2 linked regions of the Homo sapiens genome follow. The protein of the gene in region 1 interacts with the protein of each later gene in a pairwise test. Each region holds a gene or a part of one and is shown in the gene's direction. Other genes may lie near its edges.

Region 1 (7,646 bases):
CCTCGTCATCCGCCTGCCTCAGCCTCCCAAAGTGCTGGGGTTACAGGTGTAAGCCACTGCGCCCGGCTTTCTGTCCAACCTCCCTGTACAGCTTTGATCTTGTTCTGGATCTAGGATAGGTTTTGGGGTTGGGAGCTGCGGGTAGTGAAGGGAGGTGGCTGTTGGGGGTGCCAGGGATTCCAGGGGCAGAACGGGCATCCCTGGCTCCCTCCGCTCCATTTAACCCTCCTCACTGCAGGTGCTGCGAGAGATGTGCAAGCAGGGATACCGGGATGGCCTGCGCTTTCTGCAGCGGAACGGTGCGCGGACCCGGGCGGGAGAGGGCGGGGTGGGCTCGGCTCTGCTACCCCCTGCGGGCCGCGGCCGCGCTGATGAACTGAGAATCCCTTCTCTCCCCAACCCCAGGCCTCCTGAACCGGCCCAACCCCTTGCTGGCGTTGCCCCCCGCCCGCCCCCACGGCCCAGAGGACAAGGACCAGGCAGTGGAGAGCGCCCAAGCGGAGGATTACTCGCAGCTGCCCGGAGAAGATCACATCCTGGAGCACCTGCCCGCCCGGCTCAATGAGGGTGCGCACCTGGGGGACGGGAGGGGAGGAGGGGAGGCAGGAGGGAAAGAGAGAGAGGAGAGGACGGTGAGCAGGGGAGGGAAGCCGAGCGGGTCCTGGGCCCCGCTGCCTCCACTGGCCGCCGACCTCCCGCCCACCCGCAGCCCTGCTGGAGGCCTGCGTGGAGCCCACGGACCTGCTGACCACCCTCTCCAACATGCTGCCTGTGCGTCTGGCCACGGCCATGATGGTGCCCTACACGCTGCCGCTGGAGAGCGCTCTGTCCTTCACCATCCGGTGTGAGGGCTGGGGGGTCGGGAGAGGGGCCCAGGGGACGGACTTTGGGATCATCCGCGAGTGATGGTTACCAGGGAAGGTGGGGTGGGGTGAGCAGTGCCAAGTCAGGGCACAGACAGGGCCCGGCGGGTGGGCATGTGGGTCTGGCCAAGTCCCTGAACGCGCCGCTCGCCCTGTCCCCAGCTTGCTGGAGTGGCTGCCCGACGTTCCCGAGGACATCCGGTGGATGAAGGAGCAGACGGGCAGCATCTGCCAGTACCTGGTGATGCGCGCCAAGAGGAAGCTGGGCAGGCACCTGCCCTCCAGGTGAGCCGCCGACCGCGCGTCCACCCGGGGCCCGCGGTGCTAGCGCCGGGAGCTGAAGCCCTCCCTGCCGCATCCCTGCCCCGCAGGCTGCCGGAGCAGGTGGAGCTGCGCCGCGTCCAGTCGCTGCCGTCCGTGCCGCTGTCCTGCGCCGCCTACAGAGAGGCACTGCCCGGCTGGATGCGCAACAACCTCTCGCTGGGGGACGCGCTGGCCAAGTGGGAGGAGTGCCAGCGCCAGCTGCTGCTCGGCCTCTTCTGCACCAACGTGGCCTTCCCGCCCGAAGCTCTGCGCATGCGCGCACCCGCCGACCCGGCTCCCGCCCCCGCGGACCCAGCATCCCCGCAGCACCAGCTGGCCGGGCCTGCCCCCTTGCTGAGCACCCCTGCTCCCGAGGCCCGGCCCGTGATCGGGGCCCTGGGGCTGTGAGACCCCGACCCTCTCGAGGAACCCTGCCTGAGACGCCTCCATTACCACTGCGCAGTGAGATGAGGGGACTCACAGTTGCCAAGAGGGGTCTTTGCCGTGGGCCCCCTCGCCAGCCACTCACCAGCTGCATGCACTGAGAGGGGAGGTTTCCACACCCCTCCCCTGGGCCGCTGAGGCCCCGCGCACCTGTGCCTTAATCTTCCCTCCCCTGTGCTGCCCGAGCACCTCCCCCGCCCCTTTACTCCTGAGAACTTTGCAGCTGCCCTTCCCTCCCCGTTTTTCATGGCCTGCTGAAATATGTGTGTGAAGAATTATTTATTTTCGCCAAAGCACATGTAATAAATGCTGCAGCCCAGCCTCTGCCCACTTTGTGTGTATGTGACCGCCTGCTTACTTGCAGTGAGAGCCTGGTGGCCAGGGTCTGGCCCTACCTTGGCTGACCAGCCTCTCCACAGCTGCAGGCCAGGTCTCCCAGCGTCGCACTCCTGGGCCTGGCATTTGGAACCTGCCAGGCTGGCCTGGGAACACCCCCCTACAGGCACATATGAACGTACTGCATTCCTGCCGACCCCCCTGTCTAGGATGCATCCACACCCCCCCCAATTTTGCCCAGCAGCCTCCTGGCTGACCCTTGGCCACAGCCTTCTGAGGGCCAATGGAAATATTTGGGACCAAGATTCTTGGTAAATAAAAACGAAAATGTTTGCAAAAGGTGTCGCCTGCCCCTCCCCTCACACGGTGACACAGTGGGGTGTGTGACTGTTTTGGGGCTTGGCCAGCTGTGGGGGCTGAGGTTCCTGAAACCAAGCACAGGGGACCTGGGAAAGCTGGGCCCCTGCTCCACTTGGGCGTTTGGCCCAAAGTTCTCTGTCCCCCCACCCTCACAAGCCTCTCTGGCCTGGTGCACATACCTTCTTGTTCCCCTGCCCAGCCTCCTGCCAGTACACAGGGCAGGGCTGGGATATGGAGGCAGGTGAGGTCCTAGCTGAAGGGGACTCAGCCCTGTGCTGGGGAAGTGGTTTCCTGAGGGCATCCTCTTCATGGCAGGGAGGCCATGAGGGGAGAAGGCCAGCCCTCCTTGGCAACCAAAAAGGCCCCATGGCCTGAGGGTGCTGGAGCCAGCCCCCACCTGCTCCTCCCAGAAGGCGTGGGGTGGCTGTGGTGGCAGCCCCCTGCCAACAATAACGGTTGGTTCTGGGATCTGGGACTGGGCGAGCCGGCCAGGCAGGTCCCTGATGTGCCTGTGCCAGAGGCCACCCCCCTTGGTCTCAAGGTCCTGTCCTATAAGCCCAGCCTTTTGTGGTTCAGCTGGGTCGCACGCTGGATCCCAGGCCCCTTCCTTGAAAAGCAGAGGCCTTGTACCCCCCAGGGTTGCCGGGCGGGACAGTGATTCCAGCCCTTCAGGTGGGTGCAGGGGCCAGGCTGGGGCTGGGGCTGGGGAGGGCTCCTCGGTCTGGGGTGGAATTTTCTCCCCCCACAGGAGGGTTTCACTCGGGCCTCAAGCAGCTCCTCCTTCCAATCCTCCCCCAAGGGGAGCCCCAGTCAGGGCTGGGCCCCAGAAGGAGAGCCAGGAGGGGCTACTGAGGTGGGACCTGCCTGAGTCCCCAGCTCGTTCACCCATACATATACACTGAATACTGCTAAGTTAAACATTTTCTAGCATTACACGTTCATTGTTTTGTTTTGAGATGGAGTTTCGTTCTTGTTGCCCAGTGCAATGGCACAATCTCGGCTCACTGCAAACTCTGCCTCCCGAGTTCAAGTGATTCTCCTGGCTCAGCCTCCCAAAGTGCTGGGATTACAGGCGCCCACCACCACACCTGGCTAATTTTTTGTATTTTTAGTAGAGACGGGGTTTCGCCATGTTGGGCAGGCTGGTCTCGAACTCCTGACCTCAGGTGATCTGCCCCTGTCTCAGCCCCCCAAAGTGCTGGGATTACAGGCGCCCGGCCTACATGTTTATTGTTTAAAAACCGGGAAAGTATAGAGAAGAAAGTAAAGGCTCCCCACCCCTAGAGATAACCGCTGAAAGTATTTGGTCTGTTTCCTGCCCGGCTTTTTCCTACACACACTTTTTGGCGCCTTAAGTCGGGCTCCCCCCGGACAGGAGGGGCCCCTCCCAGGCGCTGGTGTCTGCGCCCGCCCCCCGCAGCCTTGTCCCTGCTCCGGGGGGTCCCTGGGTCTCTGGGGCATATCGTTGCTTCACTGCTCGCTCGAGCCTCCAGGGATCGGGCCGCCGGGGCAGCGCAGAGAGGCGGGGACAGGCGACAGCGGCGCAGAGTGGCTCCTCCCGGGGCCGGCCCAAGCGGGGGTCTCGGTGCCTGCGAAGCGGCAGGGGTCGCTCGGGGCCCAGTGCCCTCTACGTCCCGTCCGGGTCCCAGCTGGGGCGGGGCGCGCCCAGTGTTTCCGGGAGGAGCGGCCCGGGCGCGCGGCAGGTGCGGCGGCGCAACTCGCGGGTAGGCGACCGCTGGTCCCGCCGCTGAGGCCCCTCCACTGCCGCCCGCCCGGCACCCCCTCCGGGCCGCCGTGGCCCGCGCCAAACCTGAGCGTCTCGGTCGGGAACTCCGGTTACCCCCTCGGGGCGCAAGGCGGCAGGGGTAAGGGCGGGGTTGTCCCCCAGAGTTTCGGGGAGCACAGGAGGCTGGCCGCCCCACCCCACCAGCCCATCCTCCCACCTCCCTGGGGCCCTGCTGCCGCGCGGCTTCCGGCTGGGGTGGACCTCAGGTCTAGCCGGCAAGCCGGAGGGCGGGCGAGACAACAACGTGGCCTGGAGGCAATGGCCCTGGCCTCTCGTGTCCCCTTCTCTCACCCGCCCAGACTTGCCCTCTTTGGAGGTCGCCCGGGCTAAGGAACATGGAAGGACGCTGGGTGGAGAGTGAGGGGAGAGGATCCCAGCTCCCCGGTGGGGGAAGGCGGGTGTTGGTGGGGAGCAGCTTTGGGAAATCCGGGATCAGGACATTGTGTGAAGGACAGGTGGCTCTGGTTAGGGGGCGGGGCGTCCCTGCAAGGAGGTGGGAAGGGAGGCCCCAGGGAGTTCTGAAACGGGGAAGGGCCTCAGTGTTGTGGGGCAAGGGTGTTAGGTCTCGAATCTGGAAGTGTTCCTGAGTGGGGCGTCAGAGGCGAAGGGCTCTGCAGGCTGGGACCTTGCCCCTGCACTCTGTGGGCTCAGTTGTGGGGAGGGAGGGGCCGGTGGGCAGGAGGGAGAAGTCTGCCCTGCCTGCCAGCTGTCATGAGGCTGGGCCACACAGGCCCAGGCCAGGGGCTAAGGACTTGGTCAGGACTGGCTGAGCCCTCACTTGGGATCAGATCTCCAGTTGCAGAGTGTGAGGGGCTCCTCCCTCACTGACCCCAAGCCTGCTCCTCTCAGCTTTCAGGACCCCACCTTCCTTATCACCAGGTCTTCTCCACTGGCCCCTGAGATTGCCATCACCTCCAGCTCCTCCTCTCCTGAAGTTGGCAGCCCCTCCTGGGTTCCAGCCTCCTGAGATGCCAGACCCACTGGGGCAGTACCCACAGGCCCTGAGCCTACATCAACCACCCCAGTGACACCCCAAGCCTGCAGCATTTTCCACCCCCAGCCCCCTGGTCCCACCTTGCCTTCCGCCCACCTTCCCACCTGCTGCAGGGAGGGCCCTCGGCTGAGCCTTCAGACACACTTGCACCCCATCCGCTCCCCTCCTGAATTTCTTCTGACCCTCCCTTGGCTTCACAGCACCTGAAGGCCAGGCTGAGGCCCCCTGCTCTCATGGCCAGCCCTGGAAAGCCTGGGGCTGATGAGGCCCAGGAGGAGGAGGGGGAACTCGAGGGGGGCTCTGCAGGGCCGCGGGCTGCAATACTGGAGCAGGCTGAGGAGCTGTTTCTGCTGTGTGACAAGGAGGCTAAGGGCTTCATCACCAAGCACGACCTGCAGGTGAGTCCCCCACCCCAAGAGACTGCTTCGGCCCTGGGTTGACCGCAGCGGCTCATCTCTGCTCTCCTTCCCCGACCAGGGTCTCCAGAGCGACCTGCCCCTCACGCCAGAGCAGCTGGAGGCTGTGTTTGAAAGTCTGGACCGGGCTCACACTGGCTTCCTCACCGCCAGGGAGTTCTGCCTGGGCCTGGGTGAGCCTGTGGCCTGCCTATCCCCCACTGCCCAGAGCTGGAGGCCTGATCAGGAGGCCTGGCACTTGTGGCGCCCTGAGGGCTGCCGGTGCCTCTCGTCCTCCTCCCTCCAGGGCCCGTGCTTTGTCTGCACGCACTCGCGCCTGGGGGCTCCTAGCTGCGGTGGAGTGTGTGGAGCTGACCTTCCTGGCCCCCAGCTCCTCTCCTGTGCTAAGCTCCGGTAGGGCTGGGAGCTGGCCTGTCACCTCTTGTTTCCAGGCCAATAGGACCAGAATAAGGAAGGAAAACAGGAAACTGGGCCCTGAGAGAGGGCAGGATACTCGTTGGGAGGGTGAACGGGGACACAGCCACGGTGGCGACCCACAGCCCTGGTAATCGCTCGCTCCATGCCCGCAGGGATGTTTGTGGGGGTGGCGTCAGCCCAGGGAGCGAACCCCTGCAGGACTCCCGAGGAGACCTTTGAGTCGGGCGGGCTCGACGTGCAGGGCACGGCGGGCTCTCTGGATGAGGAGGAGGAAGAGGAGGAGCGATTCCACACTGTGCTGGAGCAGCTGGGGGTGGCCCCGGTCCTGGGCAAGTGAGTCGGCGCTGGCCCCGCTCCCACTGCCCGCTCTGCTGTTTCTCTGCCTGCATGCTGTCTGCCCTTGTCACCCGAGTGCTGGTTCTGCACAGGGTCTCTAGGCCGGGTCAGGCCCAGCCTAGCGTCAGCTGCGATTCCCTGGGAGGGACCCGGCATGATTTCCCGCAGAATTTGCATTTCATGAGGCAGCAGCCAGGGCTGCAGGGAGGAGGGGCAGCGCCGGGCGCGGGGCCACATACCGGCACTGCCCAGGGTACACACACCTCACCGACCACGCACGCCGGGCAGGGGCGAAAGCGCTCACGGGAGGGATGCCCTGCACGCAGCAAGTGCTCCTGTCCTGCCCAGGGGCGAAGAAGTCTCCTAAGGGTTTGCTGCTGGCGGAGGGAAGCCTGCTTCCCGCTTCTGCCAGCTCCAGCCTCAGTTCCCGCCCGCCCTCCAGGCAGCGGGCTGTGAGGACGCTCTGGGCCAGGCTGCAGCGCGAGCGCCCCGAGCTGCTGGGCTCTTTCGAGGATGTTCTGATACGCGCGTCGGCCTGCCTGGAGGAGGCGGCCCGGGAGCGCGACGGCCTGGAGCAGGCGCTGCGGAGGTGAGGGCCGGGGTGGGGTATGGGGGCCAATGGAGGGCCTCAGGGCAGCAGCAGAGGCGGTGCCAGGGGGCTGTAGCGCTGGCAAGTTCTCATCCGGGGTCGCCCGGTCCCCCGAAGGCGCGAGAGCGAGCACGAGAGGGAGGTGCGCGCTCTGTACGAGGAGACGGAGCAGCTTCGGGAGCAGAGCCGGCGCCCGCCGAGTCAGGTGGGCCTCGGGCCCCGCCCCTCCCGCCAGGCCCAATCCCACCTCGCTGGCCTCCCTGGCTCCGCCTTCTCTGAATTAATCCCTCCCCGACGGCCCCACCTCCGCGGGTCCAGGCTGCCCTCAGCCCGAGGAGATCCCACTGGGCCTCACGTATCACCCCCGTCCGGTCTTCTCCACCCGACCCCGCTCCGCCCGGGCCCACTCCCAGCCCCTGGCCCTCCGTGTACCTCTTTTGCATGGCCGAGCGGCCGGCGGAGGCTCAGTGGTCCTCCGTGCGTCCCAGAACTTCGCCCGCGGGGAGCGGAGAAGCCGTCTGGAGCTGGAGCTGCAGAGCCGCGAGCAGGACCTGGAACGCGCGGGCCTGCGGCAGCGGGAGGTGAGCACCCGGCCCCTGCCCTGTCCCCACGGTCACCCGTGCACTCTCCCCCTGTGCCTTAGCGTCCCCGGGTTGTCGGGAGCCTGGGGCACGCGCAGCACCCCGGGGAAGAGGGGGCGTTCCTCGCCGGTCTCCATCCTTCCACCCTCCAGTTAGAGCAGCAGCTGCACGCCCAGGCTGCGGAGCACCTGGAGGCACAGGCCCAGAACTCCCAGCTGTGG
Region 2 (7,991 bases), on another chromosome or scaffold:
AATCATGATGGAAGATGAAGGAAGAGCAAAGTCACATCTTACATGGCAGGAGGGAAGAGAGCTTGTGTAGGGGAATGCCCCTTTATAAAACCATCAGGTCTCATGAGACTTATTCACTAGAATGAGAATAGCACAGGAAAGACCTGCCCTGATGATTCAGTTACCTCCCACTGGGTCCCTTCCATGACATATGGGAATTATGGGAGCAACAACTCAAGATGAGCTTTGGGTGGGGACACAGCCAAACTATATCATTCCACCCCTGGCTCCTCGCAAATCACATGTCCTCACATTTCAAAACCAATCATGCCTTCCCAACAGTCCCCCAGGGTCTTAACGCATTTCAGCATTAACTCAAAATTCCACAGTCCAAAGTCTCATCTGAGACAAGGCAAGTCTCTTCTGCCTATGAGCTGTAAAATCAAAAGCAAGTTAGTTACTTCCTAAATACAATAGGAGTACAGGCATTTGGTAAGTACAGCTATTCCAAATGGGAGAAATTGGCCAAAACAAAGGGGCTACAGGCCCCATGCAAGTTCAAAATCCAGCGGGGCAGTCAAATCTTAACGCTTCAAAATTACCTCCTTTGAGTCTCTGTCTCACATCCAGGTCATGCTTATGCAAGAGGTGGGTTCCCATAGTCTTTGGAAGCTCCACTCCTGTGACTTTGCAGGGTACAACCCTCCTCCTGGCTGCTTTCATGGGCTGACACTGTCTGTGGCTTTTCCAGGCACACAGCATAAGCTGTTGGTGGATCTACCATTCTGGGATCTGGAGGACAGTGGCCCTCTTCTCACAGTTCCACTAGACAATGCCCCAGTGGGGACATTGTGTGGGGGCTCCCACCCCACATTTCCCTTCTGCACTGCCCTAGCAGAGGTTCTCCATGAGGGCTATGCCCATGCAGCACACCTCTGCTTGGACATTTAGACATTTCCAAACATCCTATGAAATCTAGGCGGAGGCTCCCAAACCTCAGTTCTTCACTTTTGTGCACCCACAGGCTCAACACCACATGGAAGCTGCCAAGGGTTGGGATTTACACCCTCTAAAGCCATGACCCAAGCTGTACCTTTGCCCTCTTTAGCCAAAGCTGGAGTGGCTGGGATGCAAGTCATCCCAAGTCCTGAGACTACACAAAGCTGCCAGGCCCTGGGTCTGGCCCATGAAACCATTTTTTCCTCCTGGACCTCCAGGTCTGTGATGGGAGGGGCTTCTGTGAAGACCTCTGATATGCCCTGGAGACACTTTCCCCATTTTCTTGGTGAAAAACATTTGGCTCCTCTTTCCTTATGCAAATTTCTGCAGCCAGCTCGAATTTCTCTTCAGAAAATAGGTTTTTCTTATCTCATCTTCATGCTGCATGTTTTCCAAACTTTTATGCTCTGCTTCCCTTTTAAATGTAGGTTCCAATTCCAAACCATATATTTGTGAATACATAAAACTGAATGTTATCAGCACCCAAATCACCTCTTGAATACTTTGCTGCTTAGAAATTTCTTTTGCCAGATGCCCTAAATCATCTCTTTCAAGTTCAAAGTTCCACAGATTTCTAGGTCAGGGGCAAAATGCTGCCAGTCTCTTTGCTAAAGCATAACAAGAGTCACCTTTGCTTCAGTTCCCAACAAGTTCCTCATCTCCATCTGAGACCACCTCAGCCTGGACCTTATTGTCCATATCACTATCAGCATTTTGGTCAAAGCTATTCAGTGAGTCTCCAGGAAGTTGCAAACTTTCCCACATCCTCCTATCTTCTTCTGAGCCCTCCAAACTGTTCCAACCTCTGCCTTTTACCCAGTTCCAAATTGCTGGGTAACAGGCAAAGTGTTAAAGTGCTGAAATGCCAATAGTGATGTCAAGGTGTGTTAGTTACCAATTGTTGTGTAACAAAGTATCAGCAAAGTTAGCAGCTTAAAACAAGAAAAAATTATTATTTAACAAAGGCTGAGAGTCAGGAATGAGAAAACTGGCTTGGCTGGAGGGTTTGGCTCAGGGTGTCTCATTAGGTTACAGGAAAGATGTCAGCCAGGGTTGCAGTCATCTGAAGGCTTGACTGGGGCTAGAGGATCTGCTTCTAAGATTGTGCATTCACAGACTGTTGGCAGGAAAAAATAGTTTCTCACCACGTGGGCCTCTCCATAGGGCTGCTTGAGTGTCCTTATCACATAGTGGCTGGCTTTGTCCAGGTGAGTGATCTAAGAGCTAGGAGGAAATTGCAATGCCTTTTATGATGCTGCCATGTTCATCATGTAACATAGCGCCCCACTCCCAGTATCAATTTACTATATCAGTCTGTTCTCATGCTGCTAATAACAACATAACCAAGACTGTGTAATTTATAAAGGAAAGAGGTTGAATTGACTTAGAGTTCCACATGGCTGGGGAGGCCTCACAATCATGGTGGAAGATGATGAAAGAAGAGCAAAGTCATGTCTTACATAGTGGCAGGCAGGAGAGCTTGTGTGGGGAAATTCCCCTGTATAAAACCATCAGATCTTGTGAGACTTATTCACTATCATGAGACCAGCACAAGAAAGACCTGCCCCCATGATTCAATTACCTCCCACTGGGTTCCTTCCATGACACGTGGGAATTATAGAAGCTACAATTCAAGATGAAATTTGGGTGGGAACAGAGCCAAACCATATCACCTTCTTAAAGATGAAGTTTCCAAGAATTTATGGACATATTTTAAAACAGCCACACATGGTTTGCGAATTGGCAGCATTGTCTTTAGGTAGTGCCAAAGTTTATTTTTCAGAAGTTCAAAACTTGACTCTCATACACACATATAGTGAGCATGTGTCAAAGATTTACTATTTTTCATAAGTGAGGGAATCAGCAAGATTATAAAGCTGATTATCAAAAGATAATTCAGGGAATGGAGGCTTATACCGTCAGTCAAGAAATAAAGGCTGAAATAGGTTGGCTAAGTTACGTTTTAAAGACAGCTTTATGACTTGTGAGGCAATAAAACTGCACCCTTTGGAGTTATCTTTTCTATCAGACAGGAATAATGTGTAATTTATCAATGTTCTCTTAGTTCATGGCTAATTTCACAGAGTCTGAGACCTAATTAGTAAGTCAAGCAAAGGGATAGGTCCAGAGAGAACTTATTGTTGGTGAGGCCTGTTTGATAATGTTTTCATATAATATTGACAGTATACACAGTCATAGTTTCATTTTACTTATTATTTATTTATTTATTGAGGCAGAGTCTAGCTCTCTCTGTCATCCAGGCTGGAGTACAGTGGCTCAATCTTGGCTCACTGCAACCTCCACCTCCCAGGTTCAAGCAATTCTCACACCTCAGCCTCCTGAGTAGCTTGGATTACAAATGTGCACCACCAACCCGGCTAATTTTTGTGTTTTCAGTAGAGATGGGGTTTTGCCACGTTGGCCAGGCTTGTCTCATTTCATCTTATTTCTACTGTCATTCCATTTGGTCAATTTGTAATTTAATAATTTTGTACAAGGCAGTTTCTACATTAATTTTATTTTTCTGAAAAGTGTCTATCATATTAGTGGCATTATGAAAATCGTAGATTATTTTCTGTGTTTTGAACAACTTGATATTTTATTTATTCTTGAACACTTGTAGGACCTCTTGGCTCATATGTCTGAATACCATTTCTTTAAAATGTACGCTTTAACATGTACACATATGTAACAAACCTGCACATTGTACACATGTATCCTAAAACTTAAAGTATAATAATAATAATAAAAGAAAAAAGAAAAATAAAACTTAAAAAAAAAGTGTATGCTTTAACAATAAATTATTAATAAATAGTTATCTGTGTTATTCAAGATATAATTAAATTGTTTTTTGTGCACTGACCCTTACCTTTATTTCAGATCCATCACAGAGAGTGCATGGAGGTATTTAAACTGCATTAACTGTTTCACAATTAAGTATTATCTTATCAATTAGGTATTCAAGAAAGATCACTTACAGAATTATAGATGGCATGAGCTAGATTTTACTTTCTAAAGAAATAACCAGATACATGAGCAAAGATGTTAATACAAAGATGTTTGTCACAACATGGTTTTCAATAGCAAAAAAAGAGAGAAAAATATATAAAAGACAAATAACAGTGGATAGGTTTCAATAAATAATGTTACAGTGATACAGTTAAATACTATACAGCTATTGAAGCATGTCATTATTCATATTTAGTATGGAAAGATATTTTGCTATTTTGCCACATGAAAAAATGAGGTTGGAAAAAGTATAGGTTTTGTGAATCTGTTGTATGAAAGCTGTCTATAGTTACATGTGTATGTGTGTGGAGGAAATAGTGTTGTCATTGGTTTTCTGATGATGCACTCAGAAAAGACAAGTATTCACATTTTTTCTTGTGGCTGATCTGGATTTTCAGGTTTTTCTACAATGAACATGTAGGCTGAACATTCCCTAAGCAGGAGAGTCCCACCTCTAACATCTCCTGTAGGCCTGGCAATGGCAGGCAGGAAAGACAGAGGAAGGAAGGAGGGAGAAGGGAAGGAGTGAAGGAAGGAGTGAAAAAGGTAAGGAAGAAAGGGAATAGGGGAGGAAGGGAGGAAATGGGAAGGGAAAGAAGGAAAGGAAGGAAAGAGGGAGGGAAGAAAGGAAGGGAAAAGGGAGGGAGTGAGTGAATGAAAGATGGAAAGAAGGAAGAAAGGGAGGGAGGCAGGGAGGAAAGAAAGTCGCGCTTCCCTTGAGCTGCCATGGGCACTGACTCTTAGGGTCTGAAAGCCCCTGAGATGCAAAAGCCTAGTGCTCACAAAGAGCTGGAAAGCCTCAAGGAAGTTCTTCAATATTTCTGGAAGGAAACTGTCTCCAGAAGCTTCCCTCCCCACGACAGATAATGAGCAGCAAGTGCTTCTGGCGACTTAGGGTGATGTGAAATCACGCTGGGAATCCTGCTCCTCCTCAGGTCCTGGCAGTTTCAGGGCCCCTCCCTAGGCCTTACTTAAAAGGCTGAGGCATCCTTGGAGGAACAGGCAGACTCCACAGCTCCCGCCAGGAGAAAGGAACATTCTGAGGTATGCTCTGGGGCGCTGGTGGTACCGGAGCTCTCTCCTGACCCCAGACCCAGAATCTGCTCCGTGGAGGCTGTTCACATGCTGGGGAGCTCGGTGCAGCTGCTTGCTCCCCAGACCCCAGCCAACTCAGCCTCTCTCTCCATGATTTTCTGTTGTTTATTCCAAAATAGGGGAGTCTACACCCTGTGGAGCTCAAGATGGTCCTGAGTGGGGCGCTGTGCTTCCGGTGAGTGTATGAGGCCCTGGTTTGGTGGTGTCCTCCGGAGGAAGTGAGTTCTGGATAGACCCGTTGTCCAGCTCTGAGCAGGAGGGAGGAAGGGAGGGGCTGCCATTGCAGCTGGGAAATTGTGACCAGCACCTCACTGCTCTTAGAGTTTTCCCAGCCTTTTTCAAATAGGGGCAGGACTGGGGCAGGCCATCTCACAAGGGGTCCCTGATGCTGAGGGGGATAAGTGAACCTCCCAGTCTAGAGCTCCAGCCAAGTCTATCCAAGGTGGGAACGGGGGCCAGGATCCCTGCTCAGAGCTCCGCCATTGTCCCCCATCACAGTGAATGGATGTAAGCTCACCCACTCTGTGCCCCTGCCTCCCTGCTACTCTTTGGGGATAATAATAAAACAAAAACCATTACCATCAGTCAGTCTGTCCACCCACTGGCATGTACCAAGCCAGACACTCTGCCGTGTTCTGGGCTTTACAACAGAGGATGAGAGTGGTCCTTTCTCTCAGTCTAATAAAGCACTTCCCATGATGTGTTCTATGGGACTCGATTAGAGGAGTCCCACAGAGGCATCCAGGAGATGCTTTACACAGTGGAGCTCTCTGATCAAGTAAATGCAGGGAATTCTGCTTTCTACATCCTCTCATAAGAGAACCACAGCCCAGCTCAGCATATGAGTGACTCTGAGGTTTTCTGAAGTAAGGCAACTTGTTGAATTGTATTTAGCCATGCATCGACCCAATTTTTACACTGCATCCTTTTCCCCCATATAACTTTTGGAGAAACCCACTTTAGGATACATCTTCCACCTCATAGGATGCCAGGAAATCAACTGAGTTCAAAGATGAGAAACAACTTTGAAAAGTTAAATAAAAGAAATTTAAATTTAAAGAAACTCCTCACTTAGTAAGGAATATATGACCAAATAGAAATACATGTATCTTGAAGAATTGAAGAATCAGGCTTTAACGTGGAAGAGGCCTGGATGTTATCCAACCCATCATCTTAGTGTAGCAATGGGGAGGCTCAGGCCCAGAGTGGGCGAGAGAGTTGTCTCCTGCGACTCAGCAGCATTGGAGGCAGAGATGGGGCAAGAACCTAGGGCTCTGACTCACCGTGCAGCTTCTCTTCCAGCAGGAGATGGGTTGGGGCAGAAAAGGTTGAATAGGGTGAAGGAGCAAACCACAGACTCCAGTGGGAGACTGTGGGGTCATCCTCCTTGTAGGGCATGAGCCCAGCAGGGCTGGGAGACAAGGCTGTGCTGTTACTTCTGGCACAGTAGGAAGAAAGAGAGACAAAATGCCTGAGATCAGGGGGTTCTCTGGATCCAGGGCATGCTGGAGTGTCCACCCTCCTCCTAATGTAGTCCTCACCCCTTCCTGATGTTTCAGAATGAAGGACTCGGCATTGAAGGTGCTTTATCTGCATAATAACCAGCTTCTAGCTGGAGGGCTGCATGCAGGGAAGGTCATTAAAGGTTGGTGATGAAACATGACCCACTTTCCTTGGTCTCTATACACTCTCAGGGGAGGGGGCCTGAAGAGGGCTTAGAATAGTCATACAGATTAGCATAGGCCTACAGAGCCCAGGCATTGGGGCAGCACAAACCAGGCTCTAAGCAAAGGCAAATAAAATACTACACCTCTCAGCAAAGTGAAGACACAGGCTCTGGGGCCACCTGAAGCTTCTATGCAGAAGTGGGAATGTTTTCCAAGAGGCTTGTCTTGTCATTCCCTTACAGGTAGATTTAGGTCAAGCATTGCATTCCCTGGGAGCCAGTAAGTACCAAGGAGAGAACTAACGTAGATTCTCTATACCTTTTTTCCCATATGGGAGTGGGTTTCTGCCTCTCCACCCTGGGTCCCCTCTGCTCTCTGAAGATCCTCAGTCACTTAGAGTGGAGGGACCCAGAGAACAGGTGGCATTGTTGGACCTCCTGCTTGCTCACTCTGCCCCATGCACTGCAACACGTCCCTCTCTAAAATAGTTTGCACCTGCCCACCTGGGGCACCCTTGCTGAGCACAGATGCCAGGTAGATCCTTCAGCTAGGCCATATGTGTATGTGTGTGCTTACTGGTGTATGTATGTGTGCATGCAGGCATATATGTGTGAGCATGTGTGCATGCATGTATCTGTGTGTAACCATGTATGTGTGAGTGCAGGTATGTAGGTATGAGCATGTGTGTGTATATGTATATGTGTGCATGCATGTATCTGTGTATGTATGTATCTGATGTATGTGGGTGGTGAGGGGATGTACAGAGAGGAATGAGACCCTCTTTTGCTCTCAGCAACATCACAGGGTGTAGAAAGTTGTCCAAACAATTCCAAAGGGGGGCTTATCAAGACAGGGTTCAGAAAAAGGCCTGAGACCCAAGGGACATTAAAGGAGGGGGTTGAATCTATTTTGGGGTGTAGAGGCTTGAAGATTTGACCCTGAACTAGAGGGTGGAGTGGAGGTGGTACAATGTGCTTCCATGCCTTGATGTCCACTCTGAGCCAGTGGACAGGAGAAGCCATGTCATGACAGCTGCTGAGAAGCCTCCCTTCTGCCCAGCCTGGGGGCAGGCCGTCTTACAGCAGTCCTGTGCCCTAGAGCCCAGGACAGGGGAAGAAGGAGGGAAAGGCATCCAGGGCCCTGCATCTGGCCTCTTTCCCACAGGTGAAGAGATCAGCGTGGTCCCCAATCGGTGGCTGGATGCCAGCCTGTCCCCCGTCATCCTGGGTGTCCAGGGTGGAA

The links. The genes of interacting proteins can lie anywhere in the genome.
Region 2: the proteins of CRACR2B (region 1) and IL36RN interact in binary tests that used the Homo sapiens proteins (3 or more experiments, as listed by UniProt).

What each region holds. Positions count from the first base shown.
Region 1 is NC_000011.10:823,289-830,934, forward strand, and holds the start of CRACR2B (EF-hand calcium-binding domain-containing protein 4A), read left to right. Parts: upstream 1-4,630; 5' UTR 4,631-5,319; coding exon 5,320-5,484; intron 5,485-5,563; coding exon 5,564-5,675; coding exon of another isoform or gene 5,676-5,895; intron 5,896-6,071; coding exon 6,072-6,252; intron 6,253-6,679; coding exon of another isoform or gene 6,680-6,697; coding exon 6,698-6,844; intron 6,845-6,961; coding exon 6,962-7,049; coding exon of another isoform or gene 7,050-7,332; coding exon 7,333-7,425; intron 7,426-7,577; coding exon 7,578-7,646. Other genes in the region: PNPLA2 (patatin-like phospholipase domain-containing protein 2), read left to right, coding at 239-299, 406-567, 710-842, 1,026-1,148, 1,235-1,574. UniProt on the Homo sapiens protein: Plays a role in store-operated Ca(2+) entry (SOCE).
Region 2 is NC_000002.12:113,054,211-113,062,201, forward strand, and holds the start of IL36RN (interleukin-36 receptor antagonist protein), read left to right. Parts: upstream 1-4,987; 5' UTR 4,988-5,031; intron 5,032-5,201; 5' UTR 5,202-5,228; coding exon 5,229-5,257; intron 5,258-6,641; coding exon 6,642-6,727; intron 6,728-7,913; coding exon 7,914-7,991. UniProt on the Homo sapiens protein: Inhibits the activity of interleukin-36 (IL36A,IL36B and IL36G) by binding to receptor IL1RL2 and preventing its association with the coreceptor IL1RAP for signaling.